Homo sapiens: one gene and its partner. The protein of the gene in region 2 purifies or fractionates together with the protein of the main gene of each other region. This does not show direct contact. Each region holds a gene or a part of one and is shown on either strand. Other genes may lie near its edges.

Region 1 (10,096 bases), on a different chromosome or scaffold from region 2:
AAGTTTTAGCCATAAGCAGTAGATTATATTGAATTCCCATATCAACAAATGTATATAAAAAGGGAAGTGTTTGGTTACATGAGATATGCAATTCGCAGCACAATAAGGAAAGGTTTCTGTTGAAAAAGAATGGCAGAAGCAATTTGGCTAAGAGAAGAAAATAACTATTATAATTGTGAAAGATGATGTTCCATTTCTTAAACTGGGTAAAAGGCATGTAAGTGTTGGCTGCATTGTGAAGTCTTTATATTTTACACATTTTTATAAATACTTTGTCATATGTGGTCAATATCTTATAAAACAATGTTTAAGTGTGAGAAAAATCTGAACAAACATTTGTTGACATTAGAGGTAAAATGTACATAGGCATCTAATCCATTTGTGCTAATTATGGTAGTTTTTAATATAAATGAAAAAGAGGTCATAAAAATATGAGTAGGAAGAAAAATATTGTAATTTATCCTTAATTTCCCTACAGAAAATAAGCAGTAAAGGTTTACTGGTGCTCTTAAAAAGGCTGTGTGTGTGTGTATGAATGTGTATTTATATACACACACACACACACACACTATATTAAACTACTTGAAATTAACTTTTTACCTCTGAAGTTCCCTTCAAACCAACCACCATCACAAATATTTCCTTAACCACATAAAAAGTACTAATACTCCTCTACGCATAATCCCAGAAATAAGTTAAAAAACAAATTCCTAAAGAGAAATGTTCACACTGCAAATAACTGTATCTTTTGTATATATGCAGACTTAACATCTATGTGAGTTGTCCAGGTTTATCCACATCTATTGTACTTGCTTTATGATGGGCACATGCATTTTAATTATGCCTTGCCAATACTACCTTGAGTGAGAGGGCAATATAGCATATTGATGAGGAGCACAGGTTCTGGAGCTAGCATTCCTAAATGGAAACTTAGCTCTTCTACTTCTCAGCTATATAGTATTGGGCAAGTTATTTAACCTCTCTGTGTTTCAGATTCTCATCTGTAAAACAGAAATAACAACACATACCTCATAGGGTGTTGGAACTGATTAAAACAACGTACAACGGGACTGGCAAAGAATAGGTGCTACATAAATGTGAGCTGTTACTACTAGTACAGCTGGCCCTTGAACAACATGGGCTTAAACTGTGCTGGTCTACTCCTATGCAGATTTTTTTCAAGCAATACAGTATTCATGGGATGCAAAAACCGAGTATATTGAGGGCCGACTTTTCCCTATACATGGTTCCATACACCAACTGCGGGATTTGAGCATGCAAGGATTTTGGCATATGTGGGGGTCCTGGAACCAATCCCCTGCATACAATAAGGGAAGAATGTAGTAGTAATTGTATTGCACCCTCTTCCTGAAAGTACCAAAAACATTCTTAAGCAATCTGAATTCCTAACATCAAATGCTACCTATATTTAAAATAGACACCAAATCTGAGGCCTGATTAACAGTAAGTTTAAAGCCCTTCAACTCTGAAGAAAATAGGTGATTCACAGATCTACATAATACTCTATCAAGAACAATCTGAGAGGACTGGTTCCCCGAGCGCAACTATCAATTTCTTCCCTTACACAAGGGGGCAGTGATAACAAGAAAAGAATCGGGCTCTGTAACACCTCTTCCTACAGACAGTAGGGGGTGGCAGTACATATGGCTTACAGTCAGAACAAAACAGGAAGACCCAACAGAATTCTCTTTATTCTCCTCTGGCCCTTTCCTCTGTTCTTCAGCCCCAACAGCTTCTCAAGGTAAGGGACATATCTACAGAAAAGACTAAAACCCAAAATCAATCACCAAGGAAAATCTATTTTTGTCTTTGAAGCAAATGATCCCTCAATGGCTGAATTTGGATCTAAGGGAAAGCCAATCAGTATGAATTTTCAGATTATCTGGCAAATTACTATAATGAGAACAGCATTCACACATGTAATTTAATTTCTTTACAAGAATTATAACATAAAACATTAAAATCTCATCAATAATTAAGTACATTCTAACGAACACATTTCCATATTTCTGCTTTTGTTATATAGTATATTCACACTCATTGTATGTATACATATAAGTTACATTAAATAGATCATGGAGTTGTCTTTTGTTACTTCTGAAATTCCAGCTATGTTCTGACAATCCTCTCGAAACAGATGTTCTTAAATGGAAGTCACAATGTTTTGCAGCATGTTGGTAATTTCTTATGTATGTATAATATACATGCACATATATCTATATAGAGACATAAATAAATATCTAGATACAGAGGGGAGCAAGAGAGAGGGAGAAAGAGAATGTTTAACGTTTTATTTCGTGCTCACATCCCTAAGAGGATCTACCTGGGAAATGCTGCAAGAAGCACTCCACTGACAGTATCCATGTTGTTGCTTTTTATGCCAATTTACTGTATTCTTTTTTTTTTTTATTTCACCATCCCAACACCAAGAACATACAAGAATATTTTAGTACTGCCGTTCTCTATAATTAACCATTGTGATAGATACTGGCTCCAACCCCTCAAAATGCCTGAAAATCTATCCCTTTTGTTCACCACACTGCTTTGTTTTCCTCATTACAGATATTTTCACCTGTGTAAAAATCAGGAAAAGGGCACATACGAAAAATACTTCCCTTTGCCTAATGATCTTTAACTCATAATTATGGTCAAGACGTTTGGGGTTTTGTTTGTTTCTTTTCCTGGAGAGGAGCAGAGAAGAGAGTGAAAGACACCCGAAACACCAAATCTTCTTCCTAATGTTAATTATCATTGTTTATGTTTTGTGAAGACCATTCTAAACATTCCACACCTGGAAATGAAGACTGGATACAATTGTACCAATGCTCTACACGCTGATGGCAAAACCTGGAATTATTTTAGCCCTATTTTTTCTTTCCAATCTCACAGCCAGACACAATTTGCTTTTTTTCTTTCACGTGGTTACTTTCTCTACCTCAAAAAAAATAGCTTATCATAGCTCCTCCCGATTTCCTATGGCAAAATATCTAGCAATGAGCCTTATTAATCTTTTATTATGCTACACCTCCTTTCCCAGAGGAATTATTAATATCGCTAATAACACTTCGACCATGAATTTCAACGCCACAGAGGCCAGCCCATCCTGTGCCTTACCTGGCACATTTCGCAACTACTTTTATGCTGCATTCTGGGGGCACATTTTGCAACTCGTTCTGCACCACATTCCCTGCCACGTTTAGCAATCCGCCTCGCATCTTATCCTTGGTCCCCGTCATCCAGAGACGCTCTAGGTACCAAATTCCATGACATCTTCGGTGACAGCCAAGTGGCGACCCCACACGCCTCTGAAGCCCGCCTTGGTGTCATATTCGGAGCCAGCCTTCCCCACGCCTTGGACACCGAGGCACTTCGCTGCCCATTTCGCCGTCTCCCCGCTCGCCCCCGCCCCTCTCCCCGGAGCCGAGGCTGTGGAGGCGAACGACCCTGTCACTGAAGCGACCTTTCCTCGCCCTGCTCCCCGGGCCCCTTACCTGCCGCTCTGAGGGGCTCTCTGCACCTCCGGGTCAAGCCCCAGTCCCCGGGGTCTCCTGTGAGGACCGCGCCGCCCGCCGGCGCCGCCCGCGATTCCCGGAGCACCTCGCAGTCCTCCAACGCCCCGCGGCGAGTCTGCACCCCGGAACGGCGCGGCGGGGCCTCGCAGCCGGCGAGCGCAGCCCGCGGCGGTGCTCCTGTCAGCGGCGGCTCGGGGGCCAGCTCTCGCCCCTCGGCTCGGCTCGGCGGCGGCGGGCGCCTCGCTCCGCCTAGCGCGCGGCACAGCCGGGAGGTGAGCGCGAGGGGGATGGGAATGGGGGCGGGGCCGCCCGAAGGAGGCGCGGAGGGCGGTGGCGGCGGGAGGGCAGCGCCAGCGGCCCTAGGCCGGGCGCTCGGAGCGCTCGCAGCTTCCCCCGCCGGGCGGGCGGCTCGCGCGAGGCGGCTGTGCCAGCGGGCCCCGCCGGAGCAGCGCGCCCAGCAACCCGCGCCCCGCCGGCCGCTCGCTAGCGCCGCCGCCGCGCTGGGGGCGTCGCACCCTCTGAGGCCGCCCGCAGCCCCGCCCCCTCCGGGCTGGGGTGGGGAGGGGCGCGAGCGCGGAGGGAGCGCGCGTGCGTGGGGGCGCGTGCGTGGTGGAGCGCGCGCGCCCCCGCCCCTTCCACAGTTTGGGGGTGGGGAACGGCTGGAAGAGGGAGTGGGGACGCAGCCCTCCTCCGCGCGGAGAGACGGGGCCCTGGCTCTGGCGCTCTGGGATGTCCTGGCATTTCTCGTATCCCCGGGGGGCTCGGACTTGTGGGTGGCATTTGGAGGGGCAGCAGGGAGGACGCTCGGTAACTGACAAGGCCCTACATAGTTGGGCTCCGCCCTCAGGGGTGATGTCACTCTCGAGGTGGCTGCTGCTGTCACGTGCGCCCATTTCAGGGCCTGTCCTCCTGCTTTGATGACCGGAATGCTCTCCTAGATCTCCCCCACTTCGGTCACCTCAGGCACATATCACTCTGAGAGTCCTCGAAGCCTACAAGTGTCAGTTATTCTTTCCCGGATTCTCAGTGGTAGTTTGTAGACGACTTCAAAAGGCCACGGTTGGCTGTGGGGAGAATCAGAATGAGAAAGAAAAACAAAACAACAGTGGGGTTTGTGGGGAGACCGAGACTGTTATTTAGAATAATGGCTGAAAATTCACCAACCACAGCTTGCAAACCTGAGGTAAAGTCGTGGCGCTGCTTCTGTCACTGCCAGGTTGACTAAGAAGTAGCGTGGTTTTAAGAGCTGGTCGACAAGGGCGGGAAAGCCACCACATTAATACCTCGTCGAACGATGTTAGGTCATATTTCACCCTCCACCTAGATCTTCTTCCCCTCTACTGTTTCCCTCCTATCATAAAACAGCAAGTCGGCTGTGGGAGGTATTTGGGACATAAACATCATCGCGTGCTGCAAGATGATGCGAAGCAATCACCGTTACCAACTCTGCCCGGCTCGCCTTCCCTTCCATAAACTGAGATGACCTTTCGTGGTCATCCAACTTCTTAATCAGATGACATGATTGGAAATAGATGCGCCAAATTACATCAATCAAGGAAGCTCTGTCTGTGGCGCTTCCAAGGTAGAGAGGTTTGTTTGATAACAGCACTTTAATCTGCCCCATCCTGTAGCACTTCATCCAGGAGTTTCTTCGATTTTCAAAAATTAGTATTAATTTCAGAACAATACAAGAAACTGGATATGAACATGTCCATCCAACAGCTCTTCTTTACAGTGAATGCTTGCAAAGTCAGAGCTAGAGCAGCTTTGAATAATACAGCTAACATGGCAAGGTGAAGGGCTGACATATGGAATCTTTTGGTGTTAACTCCAGAAAGTTAGATTAATCTAATGAAAACCCATCTACCTATGGTATTAGAGGCAAGGTAGTGATTACTTACAGGGGAATTGATTGAGAGGGGACAGGAGAGAGCCTTCTGGTTTGCTGGAAATATTCAATATCTTAATGGTTACCCGGGTGTATACATATGCAAAAAGATCTGTGCACTTCATGTCAGTTTTTTAAAATCACATACACACAAAGAAGCATTACAATGTCATCATCACTGCAGTCGGAAAACCTCAGTTTGAATCTCAGTGTCACCCAACACTTACCTGCTGTGTGACCTTGAACAGGTCTCCGGACCTTCCTTTCTTCATCTGTCTAACGTGGGTGATATTAATACTTACCTCACAGATGGATGTAAAGATGAAACAAAATTTTGGAAAATACTTAGCACAAATCCTGTTACACAATAAGGACTCAGGAAACAGGAGCTATTATGTTATCCTTCTTACACTTGAATTTACCCTATTTAATTCTCCTTCGGTCTTTTTTTTTTTTTTTTTTAAGATTACTTTCTATCTAAGCCTTTCCCTGCGAGTTCCACTGAGGCTAATAACATTCCTTCTCTGAGAAATAACAAAAGGCAGTCAGGGGTGTAATGTTGGTTTTCAAACTAGTTCAGGTGGCAGTCTCTAGAAATTATGGTGCTCAACGTGGAGCATCATGAAATACAGATAGATTTAACTCTGCCATATGGAATTGACACAATTTTACAAGCACTAAATCTGGCAATTTTATGGTTATGCAAATCTCCACATAATCACATAATAAAAAAATGGGGGCTTTTTGTTGTTGTTGTTGTTCTTTTTTTTTGAGATAGAGTCTCGACCTGTCACCCAGGCTGGAGTGCAGTGGTGCCATCTCGGCTCACTGCAACCTCCGCCTCCCGAGTTCAAGCGATTTTTGTGCCTCAGCCTCCTTCCCAAGTAGCTGGGATTACAAGCACACACCACCACCCCTGGCTAATTTTTGTATTTTAGGTACAGATGGGGTTTTGCCATGTTGACCAGGCTGGTCTCGAACTCTTGACCTCATGTGATCCACCCAACTTGGCCTCCAAAAGTGCCAGGATTACAGGCGTGAACCACTGTGTCCAGCCAAAAAATAATGTGTTTTTAAGAAATAATATGTCTGTGTTTTTCTCTTTAAATTTATTTGCAACTTTTTTACAAGGTAGGAAGTACCAAAAAATTAATAATAATTCACAAAATGAAAACCTTTAAACCCATTTTTCCTGGAAATTAGAAAAACACTGTAATTGTTCAATTTTAGCAACAGAGCTCTTTATTGGATTTACCCACAGTAAGATCTGATAGCTGTAACCCACATGGTCCCCTGCGCTGATAAAGTGAGTAACTCTGACTCACTGTCCTCACCATACTTCCAAAGATCAGTCACCACTTCTTTTAGCCAACCTTTCCCAAATCCCATTTTCATGTGGGCAGTGTCCAGGAATGAACTCACTGCTTCGCTCTTTTGATCATCCACCATCCTTCTATTCTGCCAATTCTCTTCCAGGTCGTTCTACTGTCCAGTCTTATAATTTGTTGCCACACTCTAACTTTGAGGAGGAAACAATATGTCCCTGACAGAGTTGTGAGTGGGGTATAGTAGGGACAGAGAGCAACATTGCAGCAAGAAGCCACCTCTGTTCTCAACTCCTCTCCCTGATTCCCTTTTCTGTCACTATTACCTGAAATCCTGAGAATACTAATTTTATTACCTACTAAAAATCCATTCTAGTAAAGATGTTAGTCTATAACTTAAATTTGGAAATGTAACGTATGCCGTGTAATAAGAACCTGCAAATAATTGTTCATAATGTAGCCCATCCTTGCCCTATACCTCCCAACATTTTAGCATCATCTGTATCATTCAAAATGCCCTTTCTTGCCCTTTCAACTCTGCACTATCACCCACCTCTGCATATGGTGTCTTCCCTGGCTACCTCTAAGTCTCTCTTTCTTTCTTTCTTTCTTTCTTTCTTTCTTTCTTTCTTTCTTTCTTTCTTTCTTTCCTTCTCTTCCTTCCTTTCTTTCTTTCCTTCTTTTTTGACACAGGGTCTCACCCTCATCACTCAGGCTGGAGTGCAGTGGCACCATCATGGCTCACTGCAGCCTCTATTTCTCAGACTCAGGTGACCTTTCCACATCAGCCCCCTGAGTAGCTGAGACCAAAGGTGCATGTCACCATGCCCAGCTAATTTTTTATATTGTTATAGAGATGGAGTCTCGCTATGTTGCCCAGGCTGGTCTCGAACTCCTGGGCTCAAGCAATCCGCCTGCCTCAGCCTCCCAAAGTGCTGGGATTACAGGCATGAGCCACTGTGCCCAGCCCTCTATGTCTCTTAAGTAAACCATCAGGTTCACCTTTTTCTACCCTTTTCCCTCAACTCTCTCTCCCTAAATAAAAAGTCATACCACCCACCACTGAGTGATCACCTACTGGCAGCAAATATTTCACCAGCTACTTTATATGCACAACCTCATTTAATTCCCACAACATCCTATCAGATAAGTATTATCTTAATTTTTTGGATGAGGGGGGTTCTGAGAGGTTAAATAACCAGCCCAATTTTACACTGAATGATGCGTAGAGCCAAAAACTGAACCTAGACATAAACTTTATTCTCTATCAGTTACCCTGAGGAGATTGCCATATAAAGTGTAAAGGAGAACAAAGATTACATATTTTTTAAATGTGGGTTGCCAGTTGCTCATGCCTGTAATCCCAGAGTCTCAGAAGACTGAGACAGGAGGATCACTTGAGGCCAGGAGTTCGAGGCCACAGTGAGCTATAATTGCACCACTGCACTCCAGCTGGGGCAACAGAGTAAGACCCCCCACTAAAAAAAAAAAAAGTGAGCCATGTCACACAATGGAAGCATTTCTGAAAGGTTGATGTAAATGAGATTTTTGTCATTGATTGTTTTTCATAATCTCATTTCTTGTTGATCTGTAATTAATGACTTACCCAATAGCTTCAACATTTTCCCCACCAACTCTACCTCAGCCTTTTGATGAATATTTAATATTTCTAGATGAACACTTAAAAACATTTCCACATAGAGGAGCTACTACTTAAAAGAAGTTTCTAGTAAATCCCTTTTTTGTAAAATGAAAAATGCATGTAAAATGTGAATAAACAAATGCTCATATATTTTTACATTGACATTTATAAATGTTTGACAAGTATTTGCACCTACTGTTCGTATATAGCTGTGATAAGTGCCATAGGGCATATAGAATTGATTTGAGGAAAGTCTTGCCTACTTAACTGTCATAATCTATTTGAGAAACAGAATGCTTAAAACATTTAAATATATAATATAGCATATTATAGAATTAAGTCTGAACATGAATAAAACAGCAAGTTCTGTAATTAATTACAAGAAGGAGGGATACAAGTTTGACTGGGATGGTATAGAACTGCTTCTTGAGAAAAGCAGAATAGAAAAAAGAAATGGTTGGAAAGAAGGAAGGAAGGGCCCTGAGAGCTCAACGAAAGTCCAGAGGAGGGAATGAATACGACAACCTCTTAAGTCAAAGAATGGATCTCTTTTAAAGATGAGTTGCTTTCTTAATAAAGACATGAACTCAGCTGCCATTAGGACACGTTCTCTCTCTCATTTCTGACCTTTTGTATTAGGCTCTCTCTCTCTTCTCATTCTACATTTGAGCATTTTCTCTGTTTCTCAGGCTCATGTGTTGTAAAATACATCAGCTAACAGCATTCACAGATTTAGCTAGTAAGGAGAGACTGACTTGATTCTCTGGATATAGAGTACAAAAATTCCAGGAAGGGCTCTGATTGGCCCAGCTTGGATCAAGAGCTCTCTTGCAGCCAATTCCAGGGGTGTACATTATAAATTGTGCAACATGTGTTTAAGTATGAATGCATTTATTTTTTCTGAAGAGGGAATCCATTGGTTCCATTAGATTCTCAAAGGAAGGGATTTGTAACTCAAAAGTAGCAAAGAGCTACTACAAATACAAAATATGCCAAAACCATCTCTCATTCTTCTCTCCCAAAGCAGCCCTTCTGACTCCCCTGCTCTGTCACTGATACTCCAGTCTTCTAGACTGCTAGACTTGTTACCTTGTTGTGTTTTGATACTTCTCTGTTCTTTGCTCCCTGCATTTAGTTATTCAGTAGATTATGTTAATTTTTCCCATGCAGTGGTTTTAGAACTATTCTTTTCTGTTTCCACAGGCACAATCCTTGACTATCAGCTGTCATCTTCTTTAGCTCACTAAATAGTAACATCTTCTTAACCAGATTCTTACCAGTTGTCCCTCCCTGCTCAAATCCACCTTATTAGATGAGTGTTTTAAACTCTGCCTTTCTGTCATTCTCCTGCTGAAAGACTCCACGATGTTTCCTTTCCTGGGCAGTAAGAAACACCCTGTGCAGTCTGGTCCAGGCCCATCTTTTTAACCTTTTACCAACTGATGTCTTTTCTCCTTGTTAATAAATGCTCTCCTATTCAGCCACACTTGTTGCTCAACGATCTGTTCTTTAAACGTGAAATGTGTCTATTTGTAGTTCACATCAATGTTTGTCTTTATTAAGAAAACAACTCATCTTCAAAAGAGGTCCATTCTTTGACCTAAGAGATTGGTCCCTTCCTTCTCTACTCCATCCATTTCTTTTTACTGCTTTGCTTTCCTCAAGAAAGCGAAGAACTCAAGAAGAAGTTCCATACCATCCCAGTCAA
Region 2 (9,609 bases):
TTAAGTGGTAAAAAGAGTCACAGATATGCAAAACTAATGGTTCGCATTGACCGAGGGTTTTCTGTGTCAGTGCTGAACTCAGGGCCTTACTACATGCACGTTGTTTTGTTGAATCTTCGTCATAACTGAGGAGGAAACTGAGGCAGAAGGATGTTAAGTGAAATCCAAGCCTTGCAGCCACAGAGCAACAGACTGGAGTTCAACCCCCGATCTCCCGAACTCCGGAGCCCTTCACCCCTCAGTGTCCCCAGGCCATGGAGGGGTTGACCCCACAGCTGGCCCTCAGGGTTTGATGGCCCCTGCCACACTGGCTGCCACCATCCACTCTGCCTGGCTAGCCCCTGTTGTCAGGCTGGGAGCAGTCTCCAGCAGCCACGAGCAGAAATCCCAGGAACAGGCACCTGCACTCTGCCCCTGGCTGCTGCCCTGACTTCTCGCCTGGGTGGTGTGGCCGTGCTGAGAGGGCCCACAGCCCAGTGTTCTGGAGCAGGTTGTCCCTGGTCAGGGGGTGCCATGTCTTCCTGGCCTTGCCTCACCAACCCCCCAGGCAATGGGGAATGTGGCCTTGTCCAGAAAGACCCCACATCAATCAGAGGGACACAACTGGCTTATAAAATGTGTGGGGTTTCTACTTTTTTTGTTGTTGTTTGTTTTAGAGATGGGGTCTCACTGTGTTCCCCAGGCTGGTCTCAAACTCCTGGCTTCAAGTGATCCTCCCACCTCAGCCTCCCCAAGTGCTGGGATTACAGATGTGAGCCACCACACCTGGCCAAATTCCTGGGGTTCTTTTTATTTTTATTTATTTACTTTTTTTTAGACAGGGTCTCACTCTGTCACCCAGGCTGGAGAGCAGTGGTGCGATCATGGCTCACTGCAGCTTCGACCTCCCTGAGCTTAAGCGATCCTCCCACCCCAGCTTCCTGAGTAGCTGGGACTACAGGAGCACACCACCATGTTCGGCTAATTGGTTTATGTTTTTGTAGAGATGAGGTCTTGCTCTGTTGCCCAGGCTGGTCTTGAAGCCCTGGGCTCAAGTGATCCTCCTGCCTCAGCCTCCCAATGTCTTTGGATTACAGACGTGAGCCACCATGCCTGGCCATTCCCTATTTTTAAGCTACCTCGTTTGTAGTATTTTGTTATAGAAGCCTGAATGGACTAAGACAATGCGTTTAAAAGCAGATTAAACATAGCTGAATAGAAAAGTAGTAAACTGGAAGGCAGTTGAGAAGAAAATATTCTGAAGTGTGGAGCTGCCAAGCAATGGGAACTGCAGAACACAGCATGAAAACCACGTGGGGCTGGGCGCGGTGGCTCACACCTGTAATCCCAGCACTTTGGGAGGCCGAGGCAGGCGGATCAGGAGGTCAGGAGTTCGGGACCAGCCTGGCCAACACGGTGAAACCCCATCTCTCTAGTAAAAATACAAAAATTAGCTGGGCCTGGTGGCGTGTGCCTGTAATCCCAGCTACTCGGGAGGCTGAGGCAGGAGAATCGCTTGAACTTGGGAGGCAGAGGTTACAGTGAGGCAAGACCGTGCCGCTATACTCCAGCCTGGCGACAGAGCAAGACTCCGTCTCAAAAAAACAAAACAAAACCACGTGGTGTACAGTAAGAAAGACTGCAATTAGATTTCCAGAAGAGAAGAGAGAGGAAACAGGGTAAAAGTAACATTTGGAAATTGTAGAAGACGTCAGGCCGCGGATGTGCAAAGTGCTATGCGTCCCAAATAGCCATACCCGAGTGGCCTCCAGGAGACAGAAGGTGGTGGAGGGGCCCCTCGTCTCTCCCTGGCAGCGTCCTGGGTCCAGCGCCCTGCACAGCAGGCATGGCTGTGGACACAGGACCAGTGCCCACCTTGGGCCGCCAGGGGCAGAGCACGTGTGGGCATTGCGTCTGCATATCTGCCCCGCAGTGCTGCCCAGAGCAGGGTCTCCCTCGTTGCGGATGAGTGAGTGGGACTCATGCACTGAGTTGGGAGGACTGGTGAGGACGCAGACAGCGTGACTCCGGGGACTCTGGTGCCCTTGGCCAGGTGCGGTGTTAGTGGGACACCTGCAGCTGTTGGAGTGAGCGTGGTGACTGGGGCAGGGTCAGAGGAGGACAGTCAGTCTTTCTGGAGCTCACAGGAGCTCCCAGTCGGAGAATGGGGCCGTGGGATTCTGGTGGTGTGCCTTCCTCCTGCTGGGCTCACCTGGACCACTGGGACGGGTCCAACGCCACTGCTCAGCAGGAACACAGGGCCCAGGAGCCTGCCCGGCGGCTCAGGCAGCTCTGGAGACACCCGCACAGCACCCACATTAAGGGCCCTGGTAACGCCGCCCCCGGTTCTAGTTACAGAAGCAGCCCTGTGCCCGGTCAGGAGCTGGGATCAGAGCAGACAGACACCTGGTCGTGGGCGGCAGCTCCAGGAGAGCCCCAGAGGGAGGGCTGGGGGTGCTGGGGCAAGGCAGGTGTGAGGGGCGCCAGGCCACAGGGCCCCAGCGAGGAAGGTGTACAACAGAGGGTTCGCGGGAGCCGCTGCCTACAGCCCCCGAGGGGGTGGGGCGTGCCCAGAAGCAGCAGGCAGGCAGTCACCTGTGCCCGTCCACCCCCCACGCAGGACCTCCTCGCTGCGGTGGAACTCGGGCGCCAAAGAGCGCATGCTCATCAAGGTCGCTGATCGGGAGCCCAGCTTCCTCGCCGCCCAGGGCAATGGCTACGCCCCAGACGGCCCACCTGGGGTCCGCTCCCGCAGACCCTCCGGCAGCCAGCACTCACCCAGCCTGCAGACCTTCGCCCCGGAGGCTGACGGCACCATCTTCTTCCCAGAGAGGAGGCCGTCACCCTTCCTGAAGAGGGCCGAGCTCCCAGGGAGCAGCTCCCCGCTGCTGGCCCAGCCCCGAAAGCCCTCCGGGGACTCGCAGCCCTCCTCCCCGCGCTATGGCTATGAACCCCCGCTCTACGAGGAGCCCCCAGTGGAGTACCAGGCCCCCATCTACGATGAGCCCCCCATGGACGTGCAATTCGAGGCTGGCGGGGGCTACCAGGCCGGCTCTCCCCAGCGGTCGCCGGGCCGTAAGCCCCGGCCGTTCCTCCAGCCCAACAAGCAGGGCCCCCCCTCGCCCTGCCAGCAGCTGGTGCTCACCAAGCAGAAGTGTCCCGAGCGCTTCCTGAGCCTGGAGTACAGTCCCGCCGGCAAGGAGTACGTGCGGCAGCTGGTCTACGTGGAGCAGGCGGGCTCCAGCCCCAAGCTGCGCGCCGGCCCGCGGCACAAGTACGCGCCCAACCCCGGCGGTGGTTCGTACTCCTTGCAGCCCAGCCCCTGCCTGCTGAGGGACCAGCGCCTGGGCGTCAAGTCCGGAGACTACAGCACCATGGAGGGACCTGAGCTGCGGCACAGCCAGCCGCCCACGCCGCTGCCACAGGCCCAGGAGGATGCCATGTCCTGGTCCAGCCAGCAGGACACCCTGTCCTCCACAGGCTACTCCCCGGGCACGCGCAAGCGGAAGAGCAGAAAGCCCTCTTTGTGCCAAGCCACCAGCGCCACCCCCACTGAGGGCCCCGGGGACCTGCTTGTGGAGCAGCCCCTGGCCGAGGAACAGCCCCCGTGCGGGACCAGCCTCGCCCCCGTGAAGCGAGCGGAAGGTGAGGCCGAAGGGGCGCGGGGCGCGGCCGAGCCCTTCCTGGCGCAGGCTCGGCTGGCCTGGGAGGCGCAGCAGGCCCACTTCCACATGAAGCAGAGGAGCAGCTGGGACTCCCAGCAGGACGGCTCTGGCTACGAGAGCGACGGCGCCCTGCCACTGCCCATGCCCGGGCCGGTGGTGCGGGCCTTCAGCGAGGACGAGGCGCTGGCCCAGCAGGAGAACAGGCACTGGAGGAGGGGCACCTTCGAGAAGCTAGGCTTCCCCCAGATCCTGCTGGAGAAGAGCGTCTCCGTGCAGACCAACCTGGCCTCACCAGAGCCCTACCTCCACCCCTCACAGGTGAGGGCCCAATGGGCGCGGCTGAGCTTGAGAGCCTGGGGCCAGCCCAGTCAGAGTGGACCCCGTGGGCCAGGCACAGGAGACCTGGCGTCCAGGGCGTGCACGCAGCACGCAGAGTTCTGAAGCCCCGTGTCTCCGGGGCCCTGGGCACTCCAGCGGGCTGTCAGGGCTCAGCTGGGAGTCCACGAGGAGGCCCCGTGGGGTGTGGGCTGCTGGGCGTTCCCTGGCAGTGCCTTCCTCATCCTGGGGGCACCTGGGAGCTGGAGGCCACACCCTGACTCCAGACACAGAACAGAGAAGGCCTCAGCAGCCTGGGAGGGTGGTGGCCACCGGAGCCGTGGCCTGGGCCCCTGAGGAGCAGGCAGCCAAGGTGTCGGGGGTTCCCTGGTGGTTCTCAAAGCCAGTCCCCGAGGCTCCCTCGGGTAGGAAGAACTGCCGGGAGGACAGAGGCCGCAGGAATTCCGGGATGTTGCGCCCAGCCTGGGGCCTCTGGCACGTTCCCCATCTGGCTCCTGGAGCTGATGGAGGCTAGATCCCGTGGAGGCCACGTGCACCTCTGTCCAGCATCTCCATCCTTGTTCTCACCTCCTTGTTCTCACAGGGTGAGGCAGAGGGCAGGCCTAGCGTCTGAGGACCCGGGAGGGTGGAGGAGGAACACAGGGAGCTTCCTTGGGTGGGGAGACCTCGAGGGCCTGGGTGGCCTTCGTGGTCTCCAGGGTGGAGAACTCAGAGCAGCTTCCGGTCCGTGATTCTGTCCACTTCTCAAGATGCAGGACAAGAGGGCAGAGAGGCCCAGGGTGCATGGACCAGGTTCTCTCAGAGCAGCAGGCAGGGAGGGGCCTCCTGGAGGTCGGCCTGGGGTGAAGGCTGGAGGGAAGGGCCTGGGGTCCCAGCAGTGAAGGGATTGGGAACCAGACAGCACTTTTACCTGGTGTGAACTGCAGCCTTCCGTGCCTGAACAAGGGCACTGACACTTCCTCAGGGGGCGGCAGAATGAGGTCAGCCCCCTGGGGGTGCCAGCGGATGCTCCCCTTCCTCCCGCCTCACCCTCAGCCAGGTCACCTGGGTCACCCATCAGCAGGCTGCCCTGCCACACCCTGGGAGTACAGGGCTCCGGCGTCCCAGCTGCATCTGTGGACGGGCTGGGCTCCCCTGGGCCTCCCACCTCAGACAGCTTTGTGGTGAGCAGGGCAGGGCTCTCACCTGGCTGGCTCTGGTGGGGCCCCAGCTCACACTTCTGGGGACTGTGGCCCAGTGGGCCCACCTGCCTGGCCCTCCCCCACCCCCAACAGCCCAGCCGCATTTGTCCTTCTCAGTCTGAGGACCTCGCTGCCTGTGCCCAGTTCGAGAGCAGCCGGCAGAGCCGCAGCGGCGTTCCCAGCTCCAGCTGCGTCTTCCCCACTTTCACGCTGCGCAAGCCCTCCTCGGAGACGGACATCGAGAACTGGGCCTCCAAGCACTTCAACAAGCACACGCAGGGCCTCTTCCGGCGGAAGGTGTCCATCGCCAACATGCTGGCCTGGAGCAGCGAGTCCATCAAGAAGCCCATGATCGTGACAAGCGACCGGCACGTGAAGAAGGAGGCCTGCGAGCTCTTCAAGCTGATCCAGATGTACATGGGTGACCGGCGGGCCAAGGCCGACCCACTGCACGTGGCCCTGGAGGTGGCCACCAAGGGCTGGAGCGTGCAGGGCCTGCGGGACGAGCTCTACATCCAGCTGTGCCGGCAGACCACCGAGAACTTCCGCCTGGAGAGCCTGGCCCGCGGCTGGGAGCTCATGGCCATCTGCCTGGCCTTTTTCCCGCCCACCCCCAAGTTCCACTCCTACCTGGAAGGCTACATCTACCGGCACATGGACCCCGTCAATGACACTAAAGGTAAGGCCATGCACGGGCTTTGCCACCAGCTCAGGTAAGGGCAGTGGAGAGGGCTCCTGCTGTGCTGGGCGGCAGCTGGTGAAGTCCCTGGCGGCCCTCCACACAGGGCCATGGTTCGACACACACCTCCCAAAACGCCCCACACTCTGGGCCTCTGCTGGATGTGGCCTCTTCCTGGAGCCCCACCTGGGCACTGAGGTGAAGAGCCCCGGAGCCCTGGCAGACACGAGGGCTTGGGGCCTCAATGGCCGCATCCACTCTGCTCCAAGCCCACCATGGCCAGTCCCGCTCCCTGACAAGGGCAGGCACGAAGACGCCGAGGGCGGAGCAGCCGTAGTCAGGCACCTGTGTGCCTGCCGCACTTGCCTTCTGCCATCCGTGACCTAGAGGGCTACCACCCTGGCAAGATCCGGGTTGTCTCTTCTGGGCATGGTCCTGGCAGAAGGCTCCTGTGAGCAGGCAGGAGCTTGATGACTGGCTCACATGCAGGTCACGCAGCACCTGAGCTGCCCCAAAGCTGCCCCATGGGGTCGCACGTCGGAGCCATCATCACATCCTGATGGCTGCCTGGGGCAGCGTGGGAGGCCAGAGTCTGCCCAGGGCTCTCCAAGACGATGCTTCAGGTGTGCTGGGCCCAGGCCATGGTGCCATCCGCCAGACAGCCCCGTGTCTGCAGCAAGCAGCTCTCCACCTCACATCATGGGTATCTACAGGGCACAGCCACAGAACTGATATCCAGAAATGCACGCGCACACACACACACATGCACGCACGCACACACACCCTCCAGGTCAGACATGCCATAGACTGTTCTGTGGCAGTGAGAGCCCACCCTGGTCTGGCCTTTGCCTCTGCAGAGATTGAGCCCCTGGTCAGGGCCTTGCTGGGCCTTACCCCTATTACCCCCAGCCCAGGTGTGGAGGAGGTGGCTCCCAAGCTGCTGTGGGCACACAGAGGCAGGGTGGAGGCCACAGGGCAGTGGGAGGTTCCTGGGGACAGTGTTGGGTATAGGCACCACCCAGCCCATCAGCTGTTTGTGGGGAGATTTTGGAAGCCATGCAGTTTCACCCGACTTTTCAACACAAGATCACAGCAGAGGCAGAGTTTGGCAGGTGGCCGGGGCTCCAGGTGTGCAGAGGAGGACCAGAGCAGGGTGCCAGGCAGACTGGGCTGGCCTGTGAAGCCCAGTCCCTGGTCTTGGGCCCTTCAAGAAGCAGGTGGAATTCTAGGGGCTGTGTTCCTCTTGGCATCATAGTTCACCTCCTCTTCCTCTTCCAGAGGGGCCTGGGAATGTCGTGCCTGAGCTGGAGGCTATGGAGCTGAGCCCCCACTGCTCAGCACAGCATGCAGCCCACAGTGGGTACCCCCGAGAGTAGGCAAGTGAGGGCCAGAAGACAGCCAGACAAAGGCCTGAGGTTTCTTGGGCCCATCTTGGGCCAGCTGCCTAGCCAATGTGTGGCTGGGCTGTTTCTGCTGTATGTAAGTAGAGGCTGTGGCTTCCTAGGGGAGTGTGTGCTCCAGGCTGCTGCCCTTCACACTTAGGCTCGTGTGCCTTTGTCCTTGTGCCTTACACCTGTGGGGTCCTGGCCTGCATGGAAAAAGGAATCAGGCTTCAGCCTGGGCGGCCGTGGCTTCAGAGCTCTGCCAAAGAAGGCCCATGAAGGCCAACAGCACCGTCTGGGTTGGAGTGACAGCGGGGCTGGGGCTCTGTGCAGTCCCACTGGCAGGTAGCCTGCATCTTGGCTGTGGTACTGTGGCCACCCTCACAGCCAGAACCTCATCTCCAGCCCCAGGATCCACTCCTAGGTTCGTCTGTCAGGGTCCCTGATTGGCCCTGAGCCCAGAAGAGAGGCCTCTACATACACAGTGGCCATTCCTTCCCAAATGAGCCTCACACCCCCTCCAGCCAGCCTCCTGTGCCTAGGAGGTGTCCCTTTCACATGCAGGTGCTGGCTGCTGCTCAGAAAGACAGGCCCAGCCAGGCACAGTGGCTCACACCTGGAATCCCAGCACTCTGGGCCAAGGCAAGAGGATCCCTTGAGCCTGGGAGTTTGAGACCAGCCTGGGCAACAAAGTGAGACCCTGTCTTTATGAAAAATTTTAAAAAGGAAATTAGCCAAGCATGGTGGTGTATGCTTGTGGTCCCAACTACTTGGGAGGCTGAGGCAGGAGGATTGCTTGAGCCCAGGAGGTTAAGTCTGCAGTGAGTCATGATCGTACCACTGCACTCCTGCACTCCAGCCTGGGCAACAGAGCAAGACCCCCAGCCTGGGCAACAGAGCAAGACCCCCCTTTTTTTTTGGAGTTAGAGTCTCGCTCTGTTGCCCAGGCTGGAGTTCAGGAGTGCAGTGGTGCAATCATGACTCACTGCAACCTCTGCCTCCTGGGTTCAAGCGATTGTCCTGCCTCAGCCTCCCGTGTAGCAGGGACCACAGGTGCGCGCCACCATACCCAGCTAGTTTTTGTATTTTTAGTAGAGACGGGGTTTCACCACGTTGGCCAGGATGGTCTCAAACTGCTGACCTGAGTTGATCCACCCACCTGAGTTTCCCAAAGTGCTGGGATTAGAGGCGTGAGCCATTGTGCCCGGCCAAGACTCCGTCGAAGTGGGGGTGGGGGGGCGGGTAGGAAAAAGAAAGAAAGAAAAGCAGGAAGGAAGAGAAGAGAAAGGAAAGAAAGACAGGCCCTATCAGCCGAGGAGGATGTCGGATATAGCCTGTACTGTGGAGGGCCAGCTAGGCTGCAGCACAGTTCTTAGAAAAAGGAAACTGTAGCCTAGGGACCCTCGGTGAGGAGCAGAGCTGAGCCTGGTGCGTCGCCCTGAGCACCCTGCCTGCCTCAGCCTCAGGAGCCTTTGACTCATCGGCCAGCACCTGCGTGACCTGCACTGTGTGGTCACCACCCTCGGGGACTGAGGCCCCACGAGGTGATGCCCCCAGCTTAGCCTTGTCTCATGGGTGCTCACACCTTTCACACCAGCAGGGGGTCTCCTGGCTGGTCCCCAGGACCTCCCTCAACAGGTTCTCGACACAGACATCGAGGAGCACCTGGCAGTGGGTATGGTAGCCTCCAGCTCTCCCACCTGCTCCACTTCTGTGTATTTTGGAAGGCTGGAGACTCCTAAAGGTTTCATTCACTGCTCGCTTCTTCATGCATCCAACAAGGTCTCCCGGCTTCCAGCTCAAGATGGCGGATTGAACATGGGCATTTGCTTCACCTTTGCCTTGAACTCACTAAAACAGCAGTGAAGCCATTTTTTAAAGGCAAAAAAAAAAAACCCAGAAAGGAATGTAAAATGGTACAGCCACTGTGGAAACTGGTAGGCAGTTCCTCAAATAATTAAAAATATAATTCCCATATCATCTAGCATTTCCACTTCCAGAATGACCCAGAAGAGCTGGGAGCCAGGACTGTAATGGTGATTTGTACACCTCGTTCACAGCAGCTCTTATAACTAAAAGGTGGGAACATGACAAGGATCCATCAGCAGCTGAATGGAGAAACAGAACGTGTCCAGCCACAAAATGGAAAATTATTTCCAGCCTTAAAAAGGAAGGAAATGTTGATAGACGCGCATGGATGAACCTTGAGGGCATCATGCTAAAGGCAAGAAGCCAGTCAGGATAGAGATTGTAGGATTCTCCCTCCGTGAGGCCCTAGAGCAGTCAGATTCCCAGAGACAGAAACTAGAATGGTGGGTGCCACGGCTGAGGGAGGGAGAAGCGGGGAGTGAGGTCTGCTTTGGAAAGATGAAAAAGTTCTGGAGATG

The links.
Region 1: the proteins of ARHGAP39 (region 2) and TANC2 purify together in Homo sapiens (affinity purification with mass spectrometry; 2 studies listed by BioGRID and IntAct, with this or other methods). This does not show direct contact.

The regions. Positions count from the first base shown.
Region 1 is NC_000017.11:62,960,166-62,970,261, reverse strand, and holds the start of TANC2 (protein TANC2), read right to left. Parts: upstream 4,028-10,096; 5' UTR 3,513-4,027; intron 1-3,512. UniProt on the Homo sapiens protein: Scaffolding protein in the dendritic spines which acts as immobile postsynaptic posts able to recruit KIF1A-driven dense core vesicles to dendritic spines.
Region 2 is NC_000008.11:144,541,480-144,551,088, reverse strand, and holds part of ARHGAP39 (rho GTPase-activating protein 39), read left to right. Parts: intron 1-2,599; coding exon 2,600-3,962; intron 3,963-5,278; coding exon 5,279-5,840; intron 5,841-9,609.